Linked DNA regions of Homo sapiens. The protein of the gene in region 6 interacts with the protein of the main gene of each other region in a pairwise test. Each region holds a gene or a part of one and is shown on either strand. Other genes may lie near its edges. The genes, in order: MXI1, FTHL17, DRD5, RAB3IL1, NEDD9, NBPF19 and MACO1.

What was found.
Region 1: the proteins of NBPF19 (region 6) and MXI1 interact in a two-hybrid assay, tested with the Homo sapiens proteins (one large-scale study listed by BioGRID).
Region 2: the proteins of NBPF19 (region 6) and FTHL17 interact in a two-hybrid assay, tested with the Homo sapiens proteins (one large-scale study listed by BioGRID).
Region 3: the proteins of NBPF19 (region 6) and DRD5 interact in a two-hybrid assay, tested with the Homo sapiens proteins (one large-scale study listed by BioGRID).
Region 4: the proteins of NBPF19 (region 6) and RAB3IL1 interact in a two-hybrid assay, tested with the Homo sapiens proteins (one large-scale study listed by BioGRID).
Region 5: the proteins of NBPF19 (region 6) and NEDD9 interact in a two-hybrid assay, tested with the Homo sapiens proteins (one large-scale study listed by BioGRID).
Region 7: the proteins of NBPF19 (region 6) and MACO1 interact in a two-hybrid assay, tested with the Homo sapiens proteins (one large-scale study listed by BioGRID).

The regions. Positions count from the first base shown.
Region 1 is NC_000010.11:110,280,605-110,284,104, forward strand, and holds part of MXI1 (max-interacting protein 1), read left to right. Parts: intron 1-3,500. UniProt on the Homo sapiens protein: Transcriptional repressor. MXI1 binds with MAX to form a sequence-specific DNA-binding protein complex which recognizes the core sequence 5'-CAC[GA]TG-3'. MXI1 thus antagonizes MYC transcriptional activity by competing for MAX.
Region 2 is NC_000023.11:31,070,733-31,073,177, forward strand, and holds FTHL17 (ferritin heavy polypeptide-like 17), read right to left. Parts: upstream 1,310-2,445; 5' UTR 1,222-1,309; coding exon 670-1,221; 3' UTR 501-669; downstream 1-500.
Region 3 is NC_000004.12:9,780,322-9,784,433, reverse strand, and holds DRD5 (D(1B) dopamine receptor), read right to left. Parts: upstream 2,801-4,112; 5' UTR 2,405-2,800; coding exon 971-2,404; 3' UTR 425-970; downstream 1-424. UniProt on the Homo sapiens protein: Dopamine receptor whose activity is mediated by G proteins which activate adenylyl cyclase.
Region 4 is NC_000011.10:61,904,067-61,907,566, forward strand, and holds part of RAB3IL1 (guanine nucleotide exchange factor for Rab-3A), read right to left. Parts: coding exon 3,499-3,500; intron 3,405-3,498; coding exon 3,327-3,404; intron 3,037-3,326; coding exon of another isoform or gene 2,942-3,036; intron 2,619-2,941; coding exon 2,400-2,618; intron 817-2,399; coding exon 688-816; intron 593-687; coding exon 480-592; intron 1-479. UniProt on the Homo sapiens protein: Guanine nucleotide exchange factor (GEF) which may activate RAB3A, a GTPase that regulates synaptic vesicle exocytosis. Promotes the exchange of GDP to GTP, converting inactive GDP-bound Rab proteins into their active GTP-bound form.
Region 5 is NC_000006.12:11,226,169-11,229,668, forward strand, and holds part of NEDD9 (enhancer of filamentation 1), read right to left. Parts: intron 1-3,500. UniProt on the Homo sapiens protein: Scaffolding protein which plays a central coordinating role for tyrosine-kinase-based signaling related to cell adhesion. As a focal adhesion protein, plays a role in embryonic fibroblast migration.
Region 6 is NC_000001.11:149,548,045-149,551,544, reverse strand, and holds part of NBPF19 (NBPF family member NBPF19), read right to left. Parts: intron 3,396-3,500; coding exon 3,223-3,395; intron 2,509-3,222; coding exon 2,400-2,508; intron 1,771-2,399; coding exon 1,598-1,770; intron 879-1,597; coding exon 827-878; intron 219-826; coding exon 46-218; intron 1-45.
Region 7 is NC_000001.11:25,458,397-25,461,896, reverse strand, and holds part of MACO1 (macoilin), read right to left. Parts: coding exon 3,005-3,500; intron 1-3,004. UniProt on the Homo sapiens protein: Plays a role in the regulation of neuronal activity.

The DNA.
Region 1 (3,500 bases), on a different chromosome or scaffold from region 6:
GGGAGGCGGAGCTTGCAGTGAGCCGAGATCATGCCACTGCGCTCCAGCCTGGGCAACAGAGTGAGGTTCCGTCTCAAAAAAAAAAAAAAGAAAAGAAATGATGTTGTGCCTTTCTCAATCCATTGTGTCAGGAAGATACACGATGTCGAAGTTTTTACTACTGGTGATGTGAATTTTTATATGTAGATTTTAAAGTACAACACCCTTTATTTCTCTTTCCATCTATCCTAGAATATTTATCTTTGACAGAGTTAAAGAACAGAAGTCAACCAAAAAAGAATGGTTTGAATTTTACTGATTGTTCTTCCCAAAGCTTCCACCACATCAGGCTTCATATCACATTAAAAGATCCCAGAGGTGAACACTGGTGATTTGAAGTCTTACATTTGGAGAAAGGAGCTCATGAGCTCTTTAGGATTCTAAAACATGAGACAAGTGACAGAGTTTTTTTGTTTGTTTGTTTTTAGGACTCTGATTTTGTTTTTTGTTTTTGACTTTTTTAAGTGGAAATTTTCAAACATACTTAGAATAGAATAATGAACTCCTGTATACCCACCATTCAGTTTGAATAGCTGTCAACTTGTTTCATCTGTTCTTCACTACGCTCACCCTCAATATTTTTTCTGGAATGCTTTAACTCAAATCCCAGATAACATCATTTTGCCCCTAAATACTTTAGTATGTATCTTGAATAAATAGGATTTTTAAAAATGTAATTATAATGCTATTATAATACCCCACAAAATTAATTCAGATAATCTTTTTTAATATCATCTAATACCCAGTCTGTGATACATTTTCTCCAGTTGTCTCAAAAATGGCATTTTACCATTGGTATGTTTAAATCAGGATCCAAAGGCCACATTGCATTTGTTTGATGTGCCTTTTAAGATATTAATCTATAATAATTTTTTCTCTTCCCCCTACACCGTTTTGGTAGAAACAAAAACTGATTTCTACATAACATCTCAAAAAGACTTCTTTGGCAGAGAAAACATGAAGGAATATATAGGTATAGATCTGTGTGTTGTATATATGTACATATTTTTTTAAACATCAAGAGACTGAGTCATTTTTCTTATAGAATTTCCTACATCCTAGATTTGGCTGGTTGAATCCTCATGGTGTCATTTAACATGTTATGTCCTTTATATTGACTGTAAACTGGTTGGTAGATGCAGAATACTTCATAGGTGGTGCTTTGTACTTCCTGTTATGTCAGTATTGTGTGTAGTTGTTGTTGCACTTTTAATATTAATCAATAGGTTCAGGTAAGGTCATTTTAATACATTTATATAAATGTATAGCCTTTAACTTAACAGTTTTAGCAATTATTGCCCTTATTTCATTGGGTGTCATAAAATAGTGATTTTCTAATTGTGTCATTCCTCTTGTATTTATAAACTGTTTTTCTCCTATAAACATTTTCTCATCAACTTTTCGGTTATCCTGAAATAAAGTTCATACAGGGAAGGTGGGATAAATGCTTGGTCTTGGTTTTTGCTTTATCAGTTTTCCAAACAGAGTTGGTAACCTAGCAGCTTCCAGAAGTAACAAGTTTTGGTTTTACTATTTTTTGATTATATCATGAACTCATGTTTTGCTGTACTGAATGTGTTCCAATCCATTGCAGTCATCCTTTTAAATTCTTTTGAATGCTCAAACTGTCCCAGATTTGCTGAGTAGGAGCCTTTTAAATAGTTTTTTCATCCTTTTTAACGCAACCTTTTTAACACAACCCTAGGAGTTCTTGTTTTTCTGTTTTGTTATTTTTCTATGTAAAAGTTTATTTTTGTGTGGCAGTTTTCAAGAAAAGTCTACCAGAGGCAGTAGCAAGAACCTGAAGTACATGCTACATTTATCAGTAACAGTGAAATATAGCAGAAATAACCCTGACCTTGGTGTCCCAGTCTTTCCTCTATTGCTAACTAGCGGAAACCTCTTCTTAGGTCTTTAGGTTTTAGCTGTCCTTCCTGTTACCTCCTCCTTGTACCCACCCCAACTACCTCCAAATTTCAGAGAGGAGGGTGTATTTTCATCACTATAGCTCTCATTTTTTTTTAGTGTTCCCAGTGTACCTTACTTTAGCGGTACCTTACCAAGTACCATCCTTATCCTGAGCTGGCAACCTCCTTTTTGTAGTGTTATGGGGGCTTTTAGTTAACATCTGTGGTACACTTGGCTAAAGCAGTTTCTCATTTTACTTTGTTTTTTTGGGTTTTTAAAAAATTTTTTTAAACATATTTTTAAATTTTATTAAAATAGAGATGGGCCTTGTTGCCCAAGTGGTCTCAAACTCCTGGGCTCAAGCAATCCTCCTGCCTTGGCTTCCCAAAGTGCTGGGATTATAGGTGTGAGCCACTGTGTTGGCCATCATTTTACTTTATTTTGACTGAGTTCAGCATGCTCTTTTGGATAGTGTGCCTTGTTATTATCTTCTAGTTGTAGGTTGGATGAGTGTTCAGTGGTGCTGGGAAACAATGGCTTCTGAAGCAATTCGGATATAGAGCCAATATATGAATTCACAGATTATTTGGACAGCTGCCTACATTTTAAAAACATCTCTAGAATCTCTAAAACTTTTGAAGCAACAAGCCCTTTTGAAAAGTATATTCCTGGAAATAGCTTCACCCTGTCCTTTTGGCCTCACAAGAATCCACTTTTTTTTTTTTTTTGAGAGAGAGTGTCTCGCTCTGTCGCCTAGGCTGGAGTGCAGTGGCGTGATCTTGGCTCACTGCAACCTCTGCCTCCTAAGTTCAAGTGTTTCTGCTGCGTCAGCCTCCCAAGTAGCTGGGACTATAGGCGCGTGCCACCATGCCCAGCTAATTTTTCTATTTTTAGCCTAGACACGGGGTTTCACCATATTGGTCAGGCTGGTCTTGAACTCCTGACCTCGTGATCCACCTGCCTCAGCCTCCCAAAGTGCTTGGCCGCACCCGGCTGAATCCACTTTTTTTTTTTTTTTAAAGCAGTTGTGATTAGTGTGAACCCTTAAAAAGTCAGTGCCAAATGTGAAACATCAGGCTTTGAATTTAAGTAAGGTAACTGAAAAATCCTGGGTTTCACTCTAGCTCTGATGGGAGAAAACAACTTTTTAACTCCTTTTTGTTTTTAACATGTGTATTGATTTATGTATATTATTGATGATTGAATATCTAGTATTTAACAATTAAGATTTTTTTTTTTATTTTTAAGAGACAGGGTCTCACTCTGTCACACAGGCTGAAGTGCAGTGGTGAGACCTTGGCACACTGCAGCCTCAACCTCCTGGGCTCAAGAGTGATCCTCCCACCTTGGCCTCCCGAGTAGCTGGGACTACTGGATCACCCACTATACCCAGCTAATTTTTGTGTTGTTGTGTTTTTTTTGGTAGAAATGAGGTCTCACTTTGTTACCCAGGCTTGTCTCAAACTCCTGCACTCAAGTGATCTTCCTGCCTTAGCCTCCCAAAGTGCTGGGATTACGGACGTGAGCCACTGCGTCCAGCAACATTATCTATT
Region 2 (2,445 bases), on a different chromosome or scaffold from region 6:
AGGCTCCCACTACAACTGTCACCCAAAGTGAGCTTGCCAAAGAAGTACCCTGCTGTGCTGTCACCCAGAGCCCCCACTTGCTACTCAGAATCCACAAACATTAACATTGGCATATTTTAATAAACTACAAGTTTTCATGTAAAGTTGAAGACCCTTTGTTTATTTTAATCCTTGCCCAATCCCATTTCCTTCACTTCTTCCCCAGAGGCAACCACTATGATGAATTCCAGACCACGTTTTACACTTTACCGTGCCCATGCACCCACAGCCACCAGGGCCCAAGAGTGACCACCCCACCCCATCCCACCCCACATACCCTGGTAGTTTACAAAGGGAAGACTAATGTGTTTTCCAGGGGCCCATAAAATACCATTCCACTCCACCCCTGCAAATCCTGAGCTGCATGCAGATGGGGCAGGGGTGGGTGGAGAGACTGCTGGATACCTACTTTAAACCTGCATGGGGATTTGCCCTGATTCCTAAAAGGTGAGAGTTGCAGGTGTATCAAATGGACACCTTTATTGCTTTGAGAACCAGATAACTTTTTTGCTAACAATGGTAAAACTGAAAGATAAAACTGAAGAGAACGTTCTGAAAGGGCAACATGCACGCCCCGCCTAGTGGCCTGACCCAGGGAAGGGACCCCGTGGCTGTGGGGCCCATCTGGGCTCAAGTCTCTTTGACGCGGCCGCCCAGGGTGAGCTTGTCGAACAGGTACTCAGCCAGGCCGGCTTCCGGGGAACAAATCTTGCGCAGGTTGCTCACGTAGCCACCCAGCTCTTTGATGGTCTTGACTTGCTCGTGCAGGTAGTGGCTCTCCAGGAAGTGGCACAGCTGGGGGTCGCCCTTCTCCACGGCCAGCTGGTACAGATCCAGCAGGCTCTGGTTGACGTTCTTCTCCAGGTGGAAGGCGGACTCCATGGCCACGAGCCCGCTCTCCCAGCCTTGGCACTCTGGCTTCCTGATATCGTGAAGGCAGATGTGGCCACCGCGCAGGTTCTGCAGCCTCATCAGCTTCTGGGCATGCTCCATTTTGTCGTCCGACAGGCGCAGGAAGTAGCGGAAGAAGTTCTCCAGGGCCACGTCGTCCCGGTTGAAGTAGAAGGCCATAGACAGGTACAGGTAGGAGGTGTAGAGCTCCAGCGTGATGTGGCTGTTGATGGCGGCGTCGCAGTTGGTGTCGTACTTCTGGCGCACCTGCGACGGCTGGGCGGTGGCCATGGCGGGCAGCGCAAGTGCAGGCGAGCACACGGGCGAAGTCGGTGCGGTAGCGAGGGCAGCAGCTGAGGTGACAAGAATGGCGGATAGTGAAAGGCGGGTGTGCGATGAAACCGGAAGTGGGCAGTGGAAGTGGGCAGTGGCGACCGTTAGGGAGGAGCGCGCTCTGTCGGTGGGGGGAGGGGCGGCGGGGGACAGAGTTGCGGGGCAAGGGGGTGGGGGCACAAGCGCTGACTTCCGTCGGAAATCCCGGCCACTTGGCGCTGAATGTTTCAAGACCATCTTTTAAAAATAACTGCTCTAGGCCGGGCACGGTAGCTCACGCGTGTAATCCCAGCACTTTGGGAGGCCGGGGCGGGCGGATCACGAGGTCAGGACATGGAGACCAACCTGACCAACATGGTGAAACCCCGTCTCTACTAAAAATACAAAAAAAATTAGCCAGGCATGCTGGCGCGCGCACCTGTAGTCCCAGCTACTCGGGAGGCTGAGGCAGGAGAATTGCTTGAACCCAAGAGGCGGAGGTTGCAGTGAGCTGGGATTGTGCCGTTACACGCCAGCCTGGGCAACAGAGCAAGACTTGTGTCAAACAACAACAACAAACTGCACTATTGAGATACAATTCCTCTGCCATAAAATTCACCCTCTGAAACATTTCCATGGTTTTTAGTATATTCATGAAGTTGTGTAACTATCACCCCATCACCAAAAATCTAATTTCAGAACGTTTTCCTTATTCCAAAATGAAATCCCCTACCCATGAGTAGTTACTGCCCATCTCGCCTTCCTCACTGGCCCGACAACCACAAATGAAATCTCTGTTTCTAGAGATTTGCTTACTCTGGACATTTCAAATAAATCATACTATATGCGGCCTTTATATGGCCTCTTTCATTTAGCATAATGTCTTTAACTTTTGTCTTTTTTATGGCTGAATTATATTTCATTGTATGGATATACCACATTTTATTTACTCATTCATCAGTCGATGGGCATTTGAGTTGTTTCCATTTTGTGACTATTATGACTAATGCAGCTATGAGGATTTTTATAATAGACATATGTTTTCAACTCCCTTGGGTATATACCTGGGACTAGAATTGCTGGGTCATATGTTAAGACTCTGTTTAACATTTTGAGGAACTGCTAGACTGTTTTCCAAAGTCCCCTCATCATTTTACATGCCCACTAACAATGTATGAAGGTTCCAACACTGTCATTGTCTTT
Region 3 (4,112 bases), on a different chromosome or scaffold from region 6:
ATGTCATTCTAAAACATGCTACAGTTGTCAGATGGAGAAAGATTCAAGATATTATTCTACATGATCTTTTCAATGAACTGATCGCATCTGTCTAGGAATAAGGAGAGTTGTCTTATGTTACTTCAAAAAAGATTCCATATGAGAAAAAAAACATCTGGTCTTGAGAAGATCTAATGCCATGCCATTGAAGCCAGGTTTCAGCACAGACCCAACATGGGTATAAGTAATAAAAAGAAACCTGAGAAAACAGAAGCTCCTCAAGGTCCTTTGCCCTGGTGTATCTTTAAGGCCAAACTGTAAAGAGATTAAGCATGTACTTCCAGACCCAGCAAATATCTTCTTTGCATTTTAAGGATGCACTCATCGTTTCTTCAGAAGCAATCCTGAAACCCAATGTAGCAAAGCAAAGATAGTCACCCCATAATACAAATAATCTGTGTTTATTAGACACCAGAATAAATCAGGGATACTTCTTAAGCTATGGTAAAGAGGCCCCCACCAGCACAGAGAGAAGAAATGACATAAGCACAAAGCCACGGGAATCCAGACCCAGGAAAGCTGTGCTCCCACCACATCACTGCACACACACACAACCTGCTGTTTAAAAATCAATTCAAACACAAACAAGTGACTGAACAAGCCATTTGTTTAAAAAGGGAGGGGAGAGCATATTTTTTAAGGACCAAGTATCATTTTTTTTTTTAAGGACCCAGCACCATACTCTCTTCTCTCATAGGATCGTTGGTCCATCTCTGGTAGGCTGGGTACATTTGACTGAGTTTATTGCAACTGCTTCTGCCAATTCTTCGAACTACCAATCAATGGGGTGAGGTTTCTAAGCACACGAGCTACTACACAGAAACACATGATAAAGGGAGCAGCACTGGAAAGGCATGTATTTGCGTGTGTGTGCGTGCTTGTCAATGTCTGTGCGGTTATGCAGATCCATGAGGGGGTTTCTTAATGCAGTTTAATGGAATCCATTCGGGGTGAAAGGTGTTATTTTGTCTAAAGAAATCTCCCCCTCGCAGTCCAGCTCCCAGACAGACTCAGCAACAGGGTCACCATCTGGGGACGTCTGATAGATCTGGAACATGCGATCGAAAGGACCCTCCTCCTCGTCGTTGTCCACCTCCCGGTTGCCGGGGGTAACGGCGTTGGGCATCATGTGGATGTAGGCAGCTGCGATTTCCTTGTGGAAGACGATGTCTTGGTTGTAGGAGATGAGCTCATTGCTGATGTTCACCGTCTCCACCGGCGTGCGGGAGCAGAAGTGGCTGCACCCCAGCAGCTGGGCAAACACCTTCTGAAAGTCGGCGTTGAAGGCATAGATGACGGGGTTGAGTGAGGAGTTAGCCCAGCCGAACCAGACGAAGACGTCGAAGGTGGTCTCACTGACGCAGGGGAAGCCGGCCGGAGGGCCTTCGGGGTGTCCACTGCAGAAAGGGACCATGCAGTTAAGGATGAAGAAGGGCAGCCAGCAACACACGAAGACCCCCATGATCACCGACAGGGTCTTGAGAACCTTGGTCTCCTTCTTGATGGAAGCGCGCAGGCTGGTGTCGGGCGCGCAGGCTGCGCTGCTCCGGCAGCTCTGCGCGTGCTCTGCGGCCCTCTCCAGGGAGGAAATCCTGCGGATCTGCACCTGGGCGATGCGGTAGATGCGCGTGTAGGTCACGATCATGATGGCAACGGGGATGTAGAAGCTGATGAGCGAGGAAGAGATGGCGTAGGTTCGATTCAGGCTGGAGTCACAGTTCTCTGCATTCACGTCGGGCTCCCAAAAGTCCTCCTCCCAGGGCGTCCAGTTGGCCAGGTTGTTTGGCAGGTCCAGCCCGCCCCAAGAGGCCGCCTGGTCCCTGTGCCAGTTGAGCTGGACCGGAATGAAGGAGATGAGGATGGACAAGGTCCATGCCAGGCCGACCATGACCAAGGCCATGCGCTGAGTCATCTTGCGCTTGTAGCGGAAGGGCCTGGAGATGGCCCAGTAGCGGTCCACGCTGATGACGCACAGGTTCAGGATGGAGGCAGTGGAGCACATGATGTCGAAGGCCACCCAGACGTCGCAGAACGCTCCAAAGGGCCAGTAACCGGCCACCTCGGCGACTGCCTTCCAGGGCATGACCAGCAGCGCCACGAAAAGGTCTGACACGGCCAGAGACACGATGAAGACGTTGGTCATGTTGGCGCGCAGGTGGCGGCTCCGCACGATGGCTGCGCACACCAGCACGTTGCCCAGCAGGGTCCAGATGATGAGTAGGGTCAGCAGGCAGGCGGTGACCACCTGTGAGGGCCCCAGTGGCGGTGCCCCCGCCGAGCCCCCCACGGCGTTCCCCTGCGCCAGCTGCTGGTATAGAGCGAACTGCCCCGGGTACGCGGTGCCGTTGCTGCCTGGCGGCAGCATTTCGGGCTGGACTGCAGGGGCGGTCTGTGCGCGGTCCCAACTTCAGCCCTGCGACCCCCAGGCAGCCCCATCGGGCACCCCGAGGATGCGCCCCCTCAGCCAAGGGACCCTCGAGCCCCAGAGGGCGCTCACCATGAGCTGCGCCGGGCTGCGGAGCGCGCGGGGACTTCTCTTGCCTCCTGAAGCGCCTCTGGCTCCATGGCCGTGGTGCGCCCCTCCAGTCTCCGCGATGGGGACAGGAAGCGGCTGGTGCTCGCTGACAGCCAGGGCTGTTCTCGGGAGTCTGTAGCGCGCCGGACGGCAGCGGCAGCGGCTGTGTCTGGTTCGGAGCGAGAGAAGAGAGCAAGCCGCCACTGAGGGGCTGGGGCAGGCAGTCGCGGGCGCCAGGCTGGCACTGAGGCGCTGCCGCGGTCCCTGGCCGCTCCCAGGCCCCGCGTCCCGCCCCCCGAGCCTCCGCGCTCGACTCCCGCCCCACCTGTGCCTTGGCGCCCTCGCTCACCGCCCTCAGCGCGCCAGAGTGTAGGGGCGATCCCGCAGGTCCGAGGGGCGCCCCAGCGCCAGACCCTAGTCCCCGGGCCGGGGAAAATTCTCCCCGGGAAAACCGAAGGGTGCTTGGCGCATCCCTGGAGCCTTAGCCCTGGCCACGCTTGGGGAACAAGAGGTGGGGTAAGGATGAGGACGCGAGGGCTTCCGGAGGGGGAAAGAGCATTTGAAGGGTAAGCGGGGCAGCCTTGGATTACCCACAGACCCGAGTCCCAATCCGGACTTTATTCCTGGCTCTGCGACTTTAAGGGCCCTACATAACTTTACCCGGCCTTGGTTTCCTTCTCCACAGCGTGGGATAATGATTCCTACTCCTGGGACAGTGTCAGAACTCATGGAAGCCGTCTAGGATGAGGTGTCCAGTAGACAGTGTCTCCTAGGAACAGGCTCCCGCTTCCCCCAGCCCCTCTCTCAACACCCTGAGGCTGGGGCTTCAGCTGACCTCTTGGGAGATTGTCCTTTTCCCCACCACCGCCCCCAGTCCTTGAACGATTTTTCCTTTGGGGAATAATTCGGAATGAACTCAGAAGACAAGAGGAGGAAGAGAGCCCCCCACCCCCATAGAGTTGGAGGCCTCTTCTTTGCAGGGCACTTTTACAGCCTTTCTCTTTTTCAACCTTGAGAGGGATGGATAAATAGCTCAGTGTTTAACAGAAAAGGAACTGACGGGGCCCAAAACCCAAACTGAAAAAAAAGAATGATGGAAAACAATAAAGAGGGAAAACAGTGTTCCTGAGCTCTGAGTGCACCTCCCAGCTGACAAGTTGCATTTGTGAAGTGTTTCGGCCTCTACTGGCGTTAAGCTCAGCTGAAGGCAGCTGGGAGAGAAAGGGATGTGACAGCAGCCAGCTGCATAGCTCCGGCTGCGACCTGCTGGCCCAGACACCTGCAGCATGGTGAGGTCTAGAAACAGACTGGACTTTCTCCTCCCTTCCTAGTCTCCCCCTCCACCAAACGCACCTGTACCCTGGACCAACATCTGCAAGTGGCCCACCTTCTCAGACTTAAGCTGCTCAGCCTACACAGTCCCTTCCCCCAACCTCCTTCCCCCTCAGTGCTTTTTGCCGCTGGAGAGGGCAAGACCATCTGTCCAGGTGCCTAAACCTGAAACTGAAGGGCCATCCTCACCTCTGGTCTCTCCTCATCTTCTGGGAGCTGGACCACT
Region 4 (3,500 bases), on a different chromosome or scaffold from region 6:
GGCTCAAATGCTCCCTCTCCGTGATGAGCCTCCCACCAGGGCACCAGCCATCCCCAGCCAGGCTCTTGGCTGCCAAGGTGAAATCCTCCCCAATTTCTGCCCCTTGCTCCACCCTGGCTATTTTGTTCTGCTGCTCCCCTGCTCAATGCCAGGTGAGTAGCTGGAGGACAAATGCCAGGGCTACTGCGTCGTTATTTATTGGCAGGGGCACAGCCAGCAACTGATAATCATGGTTCAAGAAAAGAAGGGGAGGGCACAGAGCAGACCAGTCAGGAAGAGGCAGACCCTAGCTCCCGGCCTCTCTGGAAAGCCTGGGGGTCCACAGGAAACCTGCCAAACTGCCTCCTTGCCCTGTGGGGGCAGCAACTGTCCCTGTCCTGTCGGCGCTGCTGCATCCTGACCACCCCTCGGCACAGTAAACACACGGCTTGGCGGGGCTTTCCCACATGGGCAGGAAGGAGCTAAGACCCTCAGCTTACTTGGTGCTGCTACAGTCAACCTCGGCCACCTTCACTGTGGGCAGCGTCTGCGAAGCCACCGGCTCAATGGTGAGCGTGTTGTCCTCCACGGCGGCCCGTACCAGCACCGAGAGCTGTGGCAGACCAGGGAGGCAGGCAGGGTGGTAAGGGGCTGGGCCCTGGCGGAGGGGTGTGTCCCCCAGCTGGCCCCGCCCCTGCCATGCCTCACCTCCTGCATTGTGAAGTCCAGGCAGGGGCCCACGTCCTCTCGGTACACCCTTTCCAGGAAGGGGCAGGTCTTGTCCAGGGTGGGGGATTCCCTCCAGGCCTGGAACTCTGCAAACAGGATTGTGTCCACCTGTGGGGGAGGGCAAGCGAGGGTGGGGGCGGTCAGGGTACTGGGGCCAGCATAGAAGATGCAGGCTGAGCTGAAGGGGAGCGAGGGAGGACGTGGGGCAGGCCCAGCAAGCCAGCAGGTCGATCCCCAGCAGCCGTGCAGGGAAGCCAAGTCCAGCAGCAGCAGAGCTCCCTTCTGCCCTTTGCACCAAAGAATTTAGAACTAAAAGTTTTGTTTCCAGGCCGGTGTTAAATTTCTTGGCGCTACTGGATTTTAGAGTGGGGTGCAGGGCTTTGTCCTGAAGACCCTCAGTGCCTCCTTGAGGAGGAAAAGTCAAAGAGCAACTAGCAGGAGGCCACAGGTACCAGCAGGTACACAAGCACACACAAGCACGTGCACACAGGAGGGGACACACACAGGCTGCCCTGGGCCCACACCTCAGAGGTGACTGCTGGCCTGCTCCAGGCCACATGCAGAATGAGGGAGGCTGGGAGGGGGCAAAGTGGGAGGCCCCTCTTTGGAGCCATTTACCTGTCGGGAAAAGGAGGGAGAGGGAGTGGAGGCAGGGGCTGGGGGCTCCCCAGGTGGGAGCGGCCAGGCCGGCTCGTAGGTGAGGTGAACCGCCTTGCTGGGGACCACGCAGAGGAGCAGGGAGAGCAGCGGGGCCAGCCCGGGCTGGGCCGGATGGACAGACAGACAGACAGACAGACAGGTAGACAGGTGCACAGAGACAGAACAGGAGGAAGGGGAGAAGTTAATGTACATTCAGAAGCTCAGAGCTCAGGAGGTGGATGAGGGCCTGCTCGTCTTCCCTGGAGGCCCTGGAGACAGAGGTGGAAGCCAGGATGGAGTCGAGTGGGCTGGCGCCAGGGACCCAGGAAGCTGAAGGCACCACAGCCCTCTGAGGCACTACCTGGGTGCAGCCTTGAACTCAGCTCTTGATGTCCCTGTCTCTGGTTCCTCCAGCAGCCCCGGGAGGCCCCATTTATCAGGTGAGAAAGCTGAGGTGCTGACAGGTGGCCTCATTTGCCTACAGACCCATGACCATGAGTGTCAGCCCAGCCTGGGCCCAGCAACTGGTGTGGCCAGCTGAGGTGGGACGGAGACACCTCTCCAAAGGCCACGCTTGTCTCAGCCCCACAGTCAGAGGGTGCCAGAAACCCCTTGAGCACAGGGCTGTCACCAGGTGGTCCTGGGGCTCGAGGCTGTGGCCACACGGGGTCCAGGCAGCCTCTCCCCTGAGGCCCAGTGGCTGCTGCTTGGCCTCTTAAGGCCAAGGAAGTGTGTGTCTCAGTGGAGGCCCCAGATCCTCAGGGCCAAAGCCAGCCTCAGGTGCAGAGACCACTACCTACTGCTTGGAGTCAGTGGGGCAGGGAGGGGGCCTCAGGTCCCCAGATGGTATACCCTGGAGGCTGCAGGCCAAGTGCCTCAGATCACAGGAGGTTGGAGAGAAAGGACCTGCCCAGCCCTCACATCCCAGAGAGGCGCAGGACAGGCTCCAGGTCACACAGCATGGGGCAGGCTGGTCCTCACTGGGCTCGGACCCTGCCTACCGCAGGCACTGCCACCCTTCCCCGTGCCCAGAGCCCGCTTCCCACCCTCACCTCCTTGCCCTCTCTGTCTGGGGTGAGGGTGTGTCCCGCAGCGGGACACACGGCGGGGCAGAGGGTGCTGCTGGTGCTCTTGTGGCGAGAGTGGCCCTTTCGGGGCCCGGCCTTGGTGGGGCTCAGCAGCTGGGGGTGAAGCTCGCGGTTGGGAGAGGCTGGTGTGGACGTGATGACCAGCGTCTTCAAGGCTGTCACCTCTGCCTGCAGCATGTCGATCTGCATGGGATGGGATGGCTGTCAACCCTCACCCAGACTGGATGCCATCCTGGCTGCCACCGCCTATCAGCCTAACTCAGGACAATGCACCCCTGCAGTGACAGGCACTTAGTCCCACCCGACGCCCTCAGAACAGCCTTCGAGGCAGAGACCCAGACACTCGTTTTACACATAGGGAAACTGAGGCTCACAGAGGCGACATGGCCTGCCCAAGGTCACTCTGTGAGCAGGATTCTGTTAGGAACAAGTGTCTGGGAGCTGGCTGGGCCTCCCATGAGAGTTCTGGGACCGCCCCCAGGAGCCAGGAAAGGCCCAGGCCTCACATTTTGCAGATGGGCAACCAGGCTTGGAGAGAGGAAGCGACTTGCCCAGGCTCAGACAGCCATACTGAGTGAGGTTTCTGCTTTGTAAAGTGGGGCTGGGAGGAGAGGGAAGAAGGTACAATAATCACAGGGTCCTCCCAGCCCCAGCACTATCCCAGAAAAGGCTCTGCCATGCAGCAGAATCACTGATGGAGCCCCGGGACACTGGGCCCTGTGATCTCAGACCCCCACCCTTCCCTTCCCTCCCTGGGCCTAGGTTCACCCATTCCTGCTGGCCCCACCGGGCCAGGTGAGCGTCCACTCGGGCAGCAAAGCTCAGTGCTCGCTGAGCCGGGAGGCAGGGGGGGTGCCTGGGCTGGCCTGGGCAGGCGGGGATGGGCCTCACCTTGCCCCGAGCCTCCTTCAGCTGCTTTTCTGATGCCGCCTGCTTCATGTTGGCTTCTCGAACCATCTTGTGAGCTTCCTAGGAAGAAGGCAGTCCCTGCGTGAGTGGTGAGGAGCCAACGGACGCCCAGATGACCCATTCCCCAAGTTGTTCCCGCGCCCAGCCGGTGTACCT
Region 5 (3,500 bases), on a different chromosome or scaffold from region 6:
GCCAGCAGGAATTACTGCAGAGAGATGGCTGGAATGTTCAAAGTAAATAAGATGGAGGGGGGTGTTGTTGGCAAAGTATAAACAGGGTTTTTTTTTGTGTGTGTGTGTCCCCTTTTCATGCCCGTACTCTTTGCAACCATCTATCACCTAGGAAACCGTCAGTTACTCTCTGGCATTTTAAGTTAGAAATATAGTATTTCTTCCCAATGGCCCTGTTTCATTTGTCTTGGCGAGAAGTCCTGGTAATTCAGCCTATATGTTCTTGCAGAGTATTGCCTTGGTCCTAGTGGTTGGCATTTCAAACCAATTTGTTCAGATTTCTTTCTGACCCTAAAATGATCTAAACATAGACAACCAAGACCTCTTACTTTACATTTATGTCATTCTAATTGACTGCAATTGGATAAGAGAGTTCACCCTGAACTTCTCATGTACTCCCAACTTACATTCTTTGGATTTTATCTTTGGTTTTTTGAATTGACGACTTTCTCTTCCTCACTGATATTTCTGTTATGGGTAAACAATTCTAGTGAATGTCTCCTTTAAACACTTTTATCTATATAAAAATTCCATATCTATATATCTGTATATCTTTGTGGGTATGTGTATATAACATCATATAATAGCTGCCATTTATTAAATGCCTAATATCTGCTAGAAAGGACAATTGTCATATATTATATCCTATAACTATCTGACAAGACAGGTATTATTCTCATTTGATAAATGAGGAAAAGAAGGTTTAAAGTAGCTAGCATAAAACTATACTGTTAGAAAGTAACAAAAGTGGGATCTGAAACAAAGCCCATGTTTTTTGTTGTTGTTGTTGTTTTTTTACTATGCCATATAGTATTAAGATCCTCTTAAATGGCTATTTGTGTATACATTTTGTCTTCTATGAGCAAAGTCTTGTAATTTCAGGAATACTGAGTCCAATGAACAATAATGAAGGAATCAAGTCATTAGTATATTAGCAAGTGGGGTCATATGCTGTTAGGGCCCTATGCTTACAATACACATCCAGGCCCACAGAATACTCAACAATATTCAACCATCTCAACCTAGTAACTGGGATTTTGACATAATTCTGTCACCAAGTCTTGAGTACATACCATCCTTTCAACATCTATTGAGCATCTACCATACAAAGAGAGCTGGAGCCAGCTTGCATTGTCTGCTTACTATATGCCAAGAGCCATAGTAAGTACTTCATTCATATATTATCCCAGGTCTTCGAATAGTATGAGGCAGTTATTCTTATCCCTATTTTACAGACAATGCTGTAAAATGAGGCTTAGAGAGCTTAACTTGCCTAAGGTCCAGAGCTATAAGCCATAAGGAACAGAAATGCCTTTCTTCAAAGCCCATGCTCTATCATGTCTCTAACACAAGAGCATAAAACACCAAGTCTTGGCCCCCTCAAAACTTCACAGACCCTAGATCATGTTTTTTATTCAAGGACTTTTCGATCAATCTGCCTCTACATACAAATAGAGGGTGGGTCTCTCATATTCAGTGGGGTTTACTTAAAACTAAACAGGCCCAGTAGGCAACCTATCTGAGTTACAGGTATCCTTTAGATAACGATTTGATTGAAAGAGGTCAATAAGTAAGGTAGTGCTAACAGAGTAGGGCAGAGGTGAAAAGCATAACAGCCTATTTTAGGGATTATAGGATGGTCCAGGAGACACAGGTTTCAGAGTTTGATTGTTTAAACAGAGTGGATGGATGAGGAGACTTTACTAGCGGGACTGACAGGCCACTCAAGTCATGTAAACGCAAACAGAGAGGCAGATGAATGGGGGCAGTGAGGGACCAAGATTTCCCATAGCAGAGTCTAAGGAGAAGGAAAAATGAGGGCTACAGAATGTGCATTAAAAGTGTCACATCTGTGTGTGGGAGGCAAGGGGGCGGCAGTAGATAGGTGCGGGTGGGGGGCTGGGGAGTAGGGGGTTGGAAGTAAGATCTACGGAAGTCAGTATTAAAGAAGCGTAAGGAAAGCCTGAAAAGAAGAAGAAGAAGATAAAAGGAGAACCAATGAGGTCATAAAAGCACGAAAGTGGGAGAGAATTTGCAAAAAGGCCGGGTGCGGTGGCTCACACCTGTAATCCCAGCACTTTGGGAGGCTGAGGCAGGTGGATCACCTGAGGTCAAGAGTTCGAGACCAGCCTGACCAACACAGTGAAACCCATCTCTACTAAAAATACAAAACTTATCCAGGCATGGTGGTGGGCACCTGTAATCCCAGCTACTCAGGAGGCCGAGACAGGAGAATCACTTGAACCCAGGAGGCAGAGGTCGCAGTGAGCTGAGGTGGCACCACTGCACTCCAGCCTGGGCGACAGAGTGAGACTTGATCTCAAAAAAAGAAAAAAAGAAAAGTGGAGAGGAAGGTGTTTTTTTCAGAAGACTGGAGTGAAGGGAGAGACAGGGAACCACTGAATTCTGAGAACAGGGACTGACGTGTATCCCAGCAAGGAAAGGATGCTAAAGGAATCCTTGGCATGTTACGCACTGTACAACTTGCTAAATTTGGTATTATCAGGCACCTTCAGTACTCTAAAGGCTTTTATCTCTGTGTAGGTAAGCCATTTAGCTCTGCAAATGGGTTTACTAAATAAATAAATAAATGCATAAATACATAAATAACCAAGTTGATATTTTTCAAAGCATGTTTTAGTGATTTTAAATCCATAGATCTCATACAAGGTTTAAAAAGGAAAAGGACAGGAGTCCTACATTTGGATTGGTTGCAAAAATCATACAGAGAAAAATAAAGCATTTTAAACCAAAATATCAAAGCAAGGAAATAATTGGGAATTTAATAGCTTATGCATGACCATATTGACTAAATTAAAGATCCTCTGTCATTATTTTCCTCGGTCTTGCTTGAGGAAATACGAATACTTTCAAAGTCCTTTCCAAAGCGTTTCACGGCACACAGGTTCTCCTTTCCCTGACCTACCCCATTCAACCAGAACACAGGACTCTGACTTTCAGAATGCACCTTTCTTAATGGCATTGTAAGTTCCGTCTGTAATTTTTCTTCAGTCAAAACGTTAAAGAATGAATTTGTTGCATGGTAGACGAGATAAATAATTTAGAATTTTAATGTAGGCACGTAAGGGCTCAGAAATTTGGCAAAGCCACAAAAGCGTCTCTGCTCAGCCATTAGCAGCCAGGCCAAGGGGCCGCTGAGCCCCCGCCCGGGCTGGGCCTGAGGTGGGCGGGGCCTCGGGCCTGGCAGGCACAAACGGGGTGGGGTCTCGGGGGCTTCTGCTCAAACACAGCTGCGCAGAGACCCTTCCATCACCCTCCTGGGAAACAGCACAACCATACACCTCCAGACCCTCAGGAGGGAGCCTTCACTGGGTAAGCAAACCAAGGCCATCGAGGCAATCACCTAACCCCGCCAGCCCCCGCCCAATTAAGAACATGCTCTGTATATGAAGGGGATTTTGTAGAAAATTCTTAATAAATGAAGCCCCCGTAATTTACTA
Region 6 (3,500 bases):
GGAAGACCAGGTGGAGGCTTATCACCTTCATAGTAAGGTACTCACTGTCCACGTCAAGAGCCAAGCCAAGGTACTGTTCCTCCAATGAGTAAACAGCACTGCTGTAGGGCTGGCCTAAGTCAGGCAGTTCAAGATAACCTGAAGGAGTCGAATAACATCTATCCAGTGGGTCCTGCAAGACTTCAGGCTCTTTCTCAGCCAGCAGCTCCCTGCTGAGCCTGGAAAAGTAGGAAAAAGTAAAGAATAAGCCAGGGGGAATCAGAAACCACACAGCCCCAGCTAGATTTCATGGCTAACATAAGGAACTGTTTAAAAAGAAAAAGGACAGATCCATTAATGAGGTAATGAATTATTGCCTTTATGTTGGGATAGACCAGGGCCAGGTAGAAAAGAATGAAAGAGAAAGACAGGGAGAGGGAGAGAGAGAGAGAGAGAGAGAGAGAGGAGAAAGTGAGCTCAGCGAGTTGGCCGGGTGACACACTGATGAAGGGGTCAAAGGACACTCTGAGTTAGTGCCCTCGGGACACACAGCGAACAGTGATCATGAAAAGAGTGGGCTCAATAATTTTCCATAAACTTGCTCAAGATTCCATGCAGTTGCCATACAGCCTTTGAGGTATGGTCAACCTATAGTAAGTTAGTAAATGTTAAGGGGAGGAAGAAATGGAAACCTAAACATCTACTGCAATGAAAACCAACAGCCATGTCAGTAGGAGTAATTCAACCTTCGTTGAAAACATGAAATTGAACACACTCTTGTTTTCCCTGGACCTGGCATCTCCAGGTGTCAACACAGAATTAAGCATCCATAATTGCTCAAAGTTACCTGGGGCATGATGGGTCTTGGTCTTCTTCCACTTCTTGGTACTTTTCAATTTCTGCAATAAGTTCAGACATGGACAGACATATGAAGCTGGTTCTCCTACACACATAACAATCCACTGTCTAATCCTCACACAGGGACTTCAGGCTCCTCAGCATGAGAATAGGACACTGTGAGAGATATTCTTCAGGAGGCCTGAAGGCTGATCACCATAGAGATTCCTTGGTTTTTGTCCCAGAAACTGTGGGTAAAATTCCCTATTCTGGTAGATCGTTATCCCAATATCATTTGTCCCAAGTTTGTGCAAATGGTTATGCCATATTTTTCCAATCGATTTAAAGCAAATACCCCCAAATGGTTGCTAGGAGAAAAACTGCACTATTCAGCCCTGTCTCATCAAATACTCAGATTGTTCATGGTAGCGAGGATTTTAGACGCTGAAATTAGAGTGAAGGATGAAATCTACAAGATCTACAAAATTGAGACAAAATCAGAGTTGTGTGAATTTGTCACATCTGCCCAGGTCCAGTGTCATGAGAGTAGGATTAGGGCTCCACAGGCATGGCCTGAGACTAGGGAGAGAGCCTTGCTCACTGACCCATCCCTTGTCTGGGCTGCCAAGTGGAACTAGAGTTTCATTCAACCTACATGTGCCTATAGGTCCTCCCTGTGGCAATGACATCTCTCAGCTCAGTAAGGGCCACTTGCAGTAGGAATATGACCCTAACCAGAAGACTCAGTGGATCCTTATCACCTTCATAGAAAGGTACTCACCATCCATGTCAACAGCCAAGCCAACACACTGTTGCTCCAATATGTAAAAGGCACTTCTGTAGGGCTGGCATGAGTCAGTCAGTTCAAGACAACCTGAAGGAGTTGAATAACATCTATCCAGTGAGTCCTGCAAGACTTCAGGCCCTTTCTCATCCAGCAGCTCCCTGCTGAGCCTGGAAAAGTGGGAAAAAGTAAAGAATAAGCCAGGGGGAATCAGAAACCACACAGCCCCAGCTAGATTTCATGGCTAACGTTAAGGAAGAGTTTGAAAAGAAAAAGGACAGATCCATTAATGAGGTAACAAATTATTGCCTTTATGTTGGGATAGAACAGGGCCAGGTAGAAAACAATGAAAGAGAAAGACAGAGAGAGAGAGAGAGACAGAGACAGAGAGAGAGACAGAGACAGAGACAGAGAGAAAGTGACCTAGTGAATTGGCCAGGTGACATACTGGTAAGGGAGTAAAAGGACACTCTGAGTTAGTGCCCTCATGACACACAGCAAACTGTGATCATGAAAAGAGTGAGCTCAATAGTTTTCCATAAAATATGCTCAAAATTCGATGCAGTGGCCATGAGAGTACAGCTTTTGAAGTATGGTCAACCTATGGTACGCTAGTAAATGATAAGGGGAGGAAGAAATGGAAACCTAAACATCTACTGCAATGAAAACCAACAGCAATGACAGTAGGAGTAATTCAGCCTTCGTTGAAAACATGACATCAAACACACTCTGGTTTCCCTGAATCTGTTGCCTCCAGGTGTTAACACAGAATTAAGCATCCACAATTGCTGAAAGTCACCTGGGGCATGGTGGGTTTTGATCTTCTTCCCCTTCTTTTCTTCCCCTTCTTCTTTCCTTCTTTGATCTTCTTCCCCTTCTTTTCTTCCCCTTCCCCTTCTTTTCAATTTCTGCAATAAATTCAGACATGGACAGACACATTAAGCTGATTCCCCTACACACATAACAATCCACTGTCTAATCCTCACACAGGGACCTCAGGCTCCTCAGCATAAGAATAGGACACTGTGAGAGATATATTTCAGGAGGCCTGAAGGCTGGTCATGATAGAAATTCCTCGGTTTTTCTCCCAGAAACTGTGGGTAAAATGTCCCTATTCTAGTAGATCGTTATCCCAATATCATTTGTCCCAAGTTTGTGCAAACAGTTATGCCATATTTTTCCAATCAATTTAAAGCAAATACCCTCAAATGATTTCTGGGAGAAAAACTGCAATATTTAGCCCTGTCTCATCAAATACTCAGATTGTTCATGGTTGTGAGGACTTTAGACACTGAAATTAGAGTGAAAAAGGAAATCTACAAACCCTTGAGTCAAAATCATAGTTCTCTGAATTTGTCACATCTGCCCAGGTCCAATGTCATGAGAGTAGAATCAGAGTGCCACAGGTATGGCCTGAGACTAGGAAGAGAGCCATGCTCACTGACCCATCCCATGTCTGGGCTTCCAGGTAGAACTAGAGTTTCATTCAACCTACATGTGCCTATAGGTCCTCACTGCGGCAATGACATCTCTCAGCTCAGTAATGGCCACTTGGAGCAGGAATATGATCTTTATATGGAAGACTCAGTGGATGCTTATCACCTTCATAGAAAGGTACTCACCTCCCACGTCAAGAGAAAAGCCAACATGTTTTTCCTCCAATGCATAAAAGGAACTTCCATAGGGCTGGCAGGAGTCAGGCTGTTCAAGACAACTGGAAGGAGTTGAATAACATCTATCCAGTGAGTCCTGCAAGACTTCAGGCTCTACTACCTCCAGCAGCTCCCTGCTGAGCCTGGAAAAGGAGGAAAAAGTAAAGAATAAGCCAGGGGAAATCACACACAACAGAGCCCCAACTAGGTTTCATGGGTAGCATAAGGAAGTGGTTAAGAAAGTAAAA
Region 7 (3,500 bases), about 120 Mb from region 6:
AGAAAAATGTGAAAATGTATGAAAATAAAAAGAAAAAATAAATGCCCAATACTATCAAGGGATAACAACTATTGTTAACAATTTGGTTATTTTCCCTTTAAATCATTTTTCTATGTATATTAGAAAAAATTGTTTTTCATTAAATTGCTTTCTCCTTTATTCATGAAATGCTTTGACATACTTCCCCATATTCTTTAATATGGCTTGAAAGTATGATTTTATAGTATCTATATGAAAAGTTTATCAAATGGATGGACCATAATTTATTTTAAATTTCTCCCATTATTGGATATTTACATCACCCTTTTTTTTGAGGGGGGGGAAGGAAGAGAACCAACATTTATTGAATGCCTGTACCTTAACAACAGCACTATTCTATTAGTTTTATCTCAACTTTCCAAGAAATGGAAATCAGAGGGGTCAAATAATATGCCCAAGGCCACTCAGACAGTAAATAGAAGGTCCAGGATCCAACCAAGGTGTGATTTAAAAACCTATATTCTTTGCATAGTATTCTTTATTTTATTTTATTATTATTATACTTTAAGTTTTAGGGTACATGTGCACAATGTGCAGGTTTGTTACATATGTATACACGTGCCATGTTGGTGTGCTGCACCCATTAACTCGTCATGTAGTATTAGGTGTATCTCCTAATGCTATCCCTCCCCCCTCCCCCCACCCCACAACAGTCCCCGGAGTGTGATGTTCCCCTTCCTGTGTCCATGTGTTCTCCTTGTTCAATTCCCACCTATGAGTGAAAACATGTGGTGTTTGGTTTTTTGTCCTTGCGATAGTTTGCTGAGAATGATGGTTTCCAGTTTCATCCATGTCCCTACAAAGGACATGAACTCTTCATTTTTTATGGCTGCATAGTATTCCATGGTGTATATGTGCCACATTTTCTTAATCCAGTCTATCGATCCCCTTATTTTTTATAACATTAAAAGTTGAAAATAATACCATGGGAGCTTATAAACCTACTTAAATATAATGTTGTCTATTAGTCATTTGATAGTAAGTAGTTCTCCAAAACAGAGTAATACCTGGGACACTGTAGGTCAAGGCAGAGTACGCATTAGTGACCACAAGAAGCAGCATACTCCTTAGGTGTAGGCACGGGGGCACTGGACCCATGTCATCATCTCCAGCTTACTGGACAATTAGCCATCTGGGTCCTTGAACTTCTCTACTAAAAGCAGATCAGATAGTAGAGTCAATCAATATCACAAACCATCATTTAGTAATAGCTTGACCGCTATTACTAAACTTGTGTCAGCCTGGGCAACATGGCGAGATCTCCTCTCTACAAAAAAATTAAAAAATTAGCCAGGCATAGTGGCATGCGCCTGTAGTCCCAGCTACACAGGAGGATGAGGTGGGAGGAAAACCTGAGCCTGGGGAGGTAGAGTCTACAGTTAGCTGTGATCACGCCACTACACTCAAGCCTGGGCAAAACAGTGAGATCCTATCTCAAAAAAAAAAAAAAACATGTGTAGGAGAAAGGATGGTAAATAGCTGTGACAGATGTTTTGTGTATAGCATTTAGTGAATTTGTGGGATATTCCTCTGAAATAGAAGGTAAACTAATTGGTCTTTCTCCCATGGGCATCTGGAGGAGAGTTCTCTTCCACGTGTTTTTTCTGCTGGGCACAATGGCCAGAATGTCCTAACAAATGGATATGGATGCCAGCCAGGCAACAGCAAATAGCACACTTCCAAAAGTAGCCTGGGGGCTGTGAAACCTCTAGAGCCTGTATTAGTAGAACCCAAATATACCTCGCTTAGTTTAACTGCCAATCAGAAAATTAAAACAAATTAATAATCTAGTTCATACCATTTATAATGCTGGAAAGCCTCCCTCCTAGAATAAACGGACTGCCTAAAGGGCTGCCTAAAGCAAGCCAGAGAAAGAAGAATATAACTTACTGGAAGGGGAGAGTTTCAATTGCCCTCTTGAGTTACATACACACAAAAAAGCTCCAGTTTAGATCTCAGTTTCCAAATTAAAGATCTGAGGTGAAAGGAACATATTTGTGTTTGCCTAACATAAGCCATATAAAATATAGTAAAATTAAGTCTGAGCCAGTCAATGTAATAAAACAATGTTATTCTTTTATGGCCGGGCACGGTGGCTCACATCTGTAATCCCAGGACTTTGGGAGGCCGAAGCAGGTGGATCACCTGAGGTCAGGAGTTTGAGACCAGCCTGGGCAACATGGTGAAATCCTGTCACTATTAAAAATACAAAAAAATTAGCCTGGCGTGGCGGCAAGCACCTATAATCCCAGTTAGTTGGGAGGCTGAGGCAGGAGAATCACTTGGAGCCAGGAGGCGGAGGTTGCAGTGAGCCGAGATCGTGCCAGCCTGGGCAATAGAGCAAGACTCCGTCTCAAAAAAAAAAAAAAATTCTTTTAATTAAAATGAGAAAAGCAACATTCCTAATTAAACTTTGTGTCTAACACTGTTTCTCCATGGATTTTTGTGAAAGAGATTGCTTTTCAAATCTAACTTTCCCAGAGTTATCTAGGATAATTCATATTCTAAGTGCAGAAAAACAAACAGAAAAACAAAACAAGCACAAAGTAGTAAGGACAACTTTCTCACCCCTCTCCTGCAATGTATATCTGTTTGACAGAGATTTGCGTGAACAAGCACAAACTCTTCTTTTTGTGTTTACGCCAAGAGAACTCTGGACATGCAAACAGAAAAGGACAAGGACCAAAGAAGTGCCTTACAACACGACTAGAAGAATCAAGTTACAGGTCAATTTGTCACATGTGGGAAGTAATCAGTGTCACTCATTATTCAGAACACTGCAAAGAGCTGAAATCAATGCTTCAACACAATAACACAAGGTGGCCAACAAACTCATGTAAAACACCACACGTCACTAGTCACAATATCTGATTACAAACAATCCCTACAGGCCCATATGGGAGTATGTCAAGAGTATGTCAAGTTTACTGGAAAGTGTTAGTAAGGATGCAGCATGTGCACTTACCTGACCAGTGCGTCTGGTTTGCTTAGCTGGTTATTAGGAATACAGTTTTCCATTAAGTCCTTGTGTGTACTTGGGCTCTTGCTAGTGCATTTCTGCTTCTTCTCATTTTTACTAGATGAGGAAGGAATGCTCCCATTTGTGGCGCTATGACTTCGAGGTGAAGAGTTCACAACTCCACTGGCATTTTTGTAATTTTTTGAGGAAGCAGTGCATGAGTCCTCTTTCAAGAGATTTTCTGTACTTCCCACAAGATCATTATTTAATCTTTTACTATTGATATGGTTTTCCATATACTCAATCTCTTGTATTTTAGAGTCTACAGGTTGTAGAATATTGTTGTTATTTATTCCAAGGTTGTGTTTTTTGGCATCCTTGTCCTTTTCTTTCCCTTTTTCTCGGTATTCTATCTCTGGCAAAGTTGTGGAGAGTTTTTTGTTGGCTGGGATACCTCCATTGTGGTGTATAAGGATCGAAGAATCCATATCAGGTAATCCTT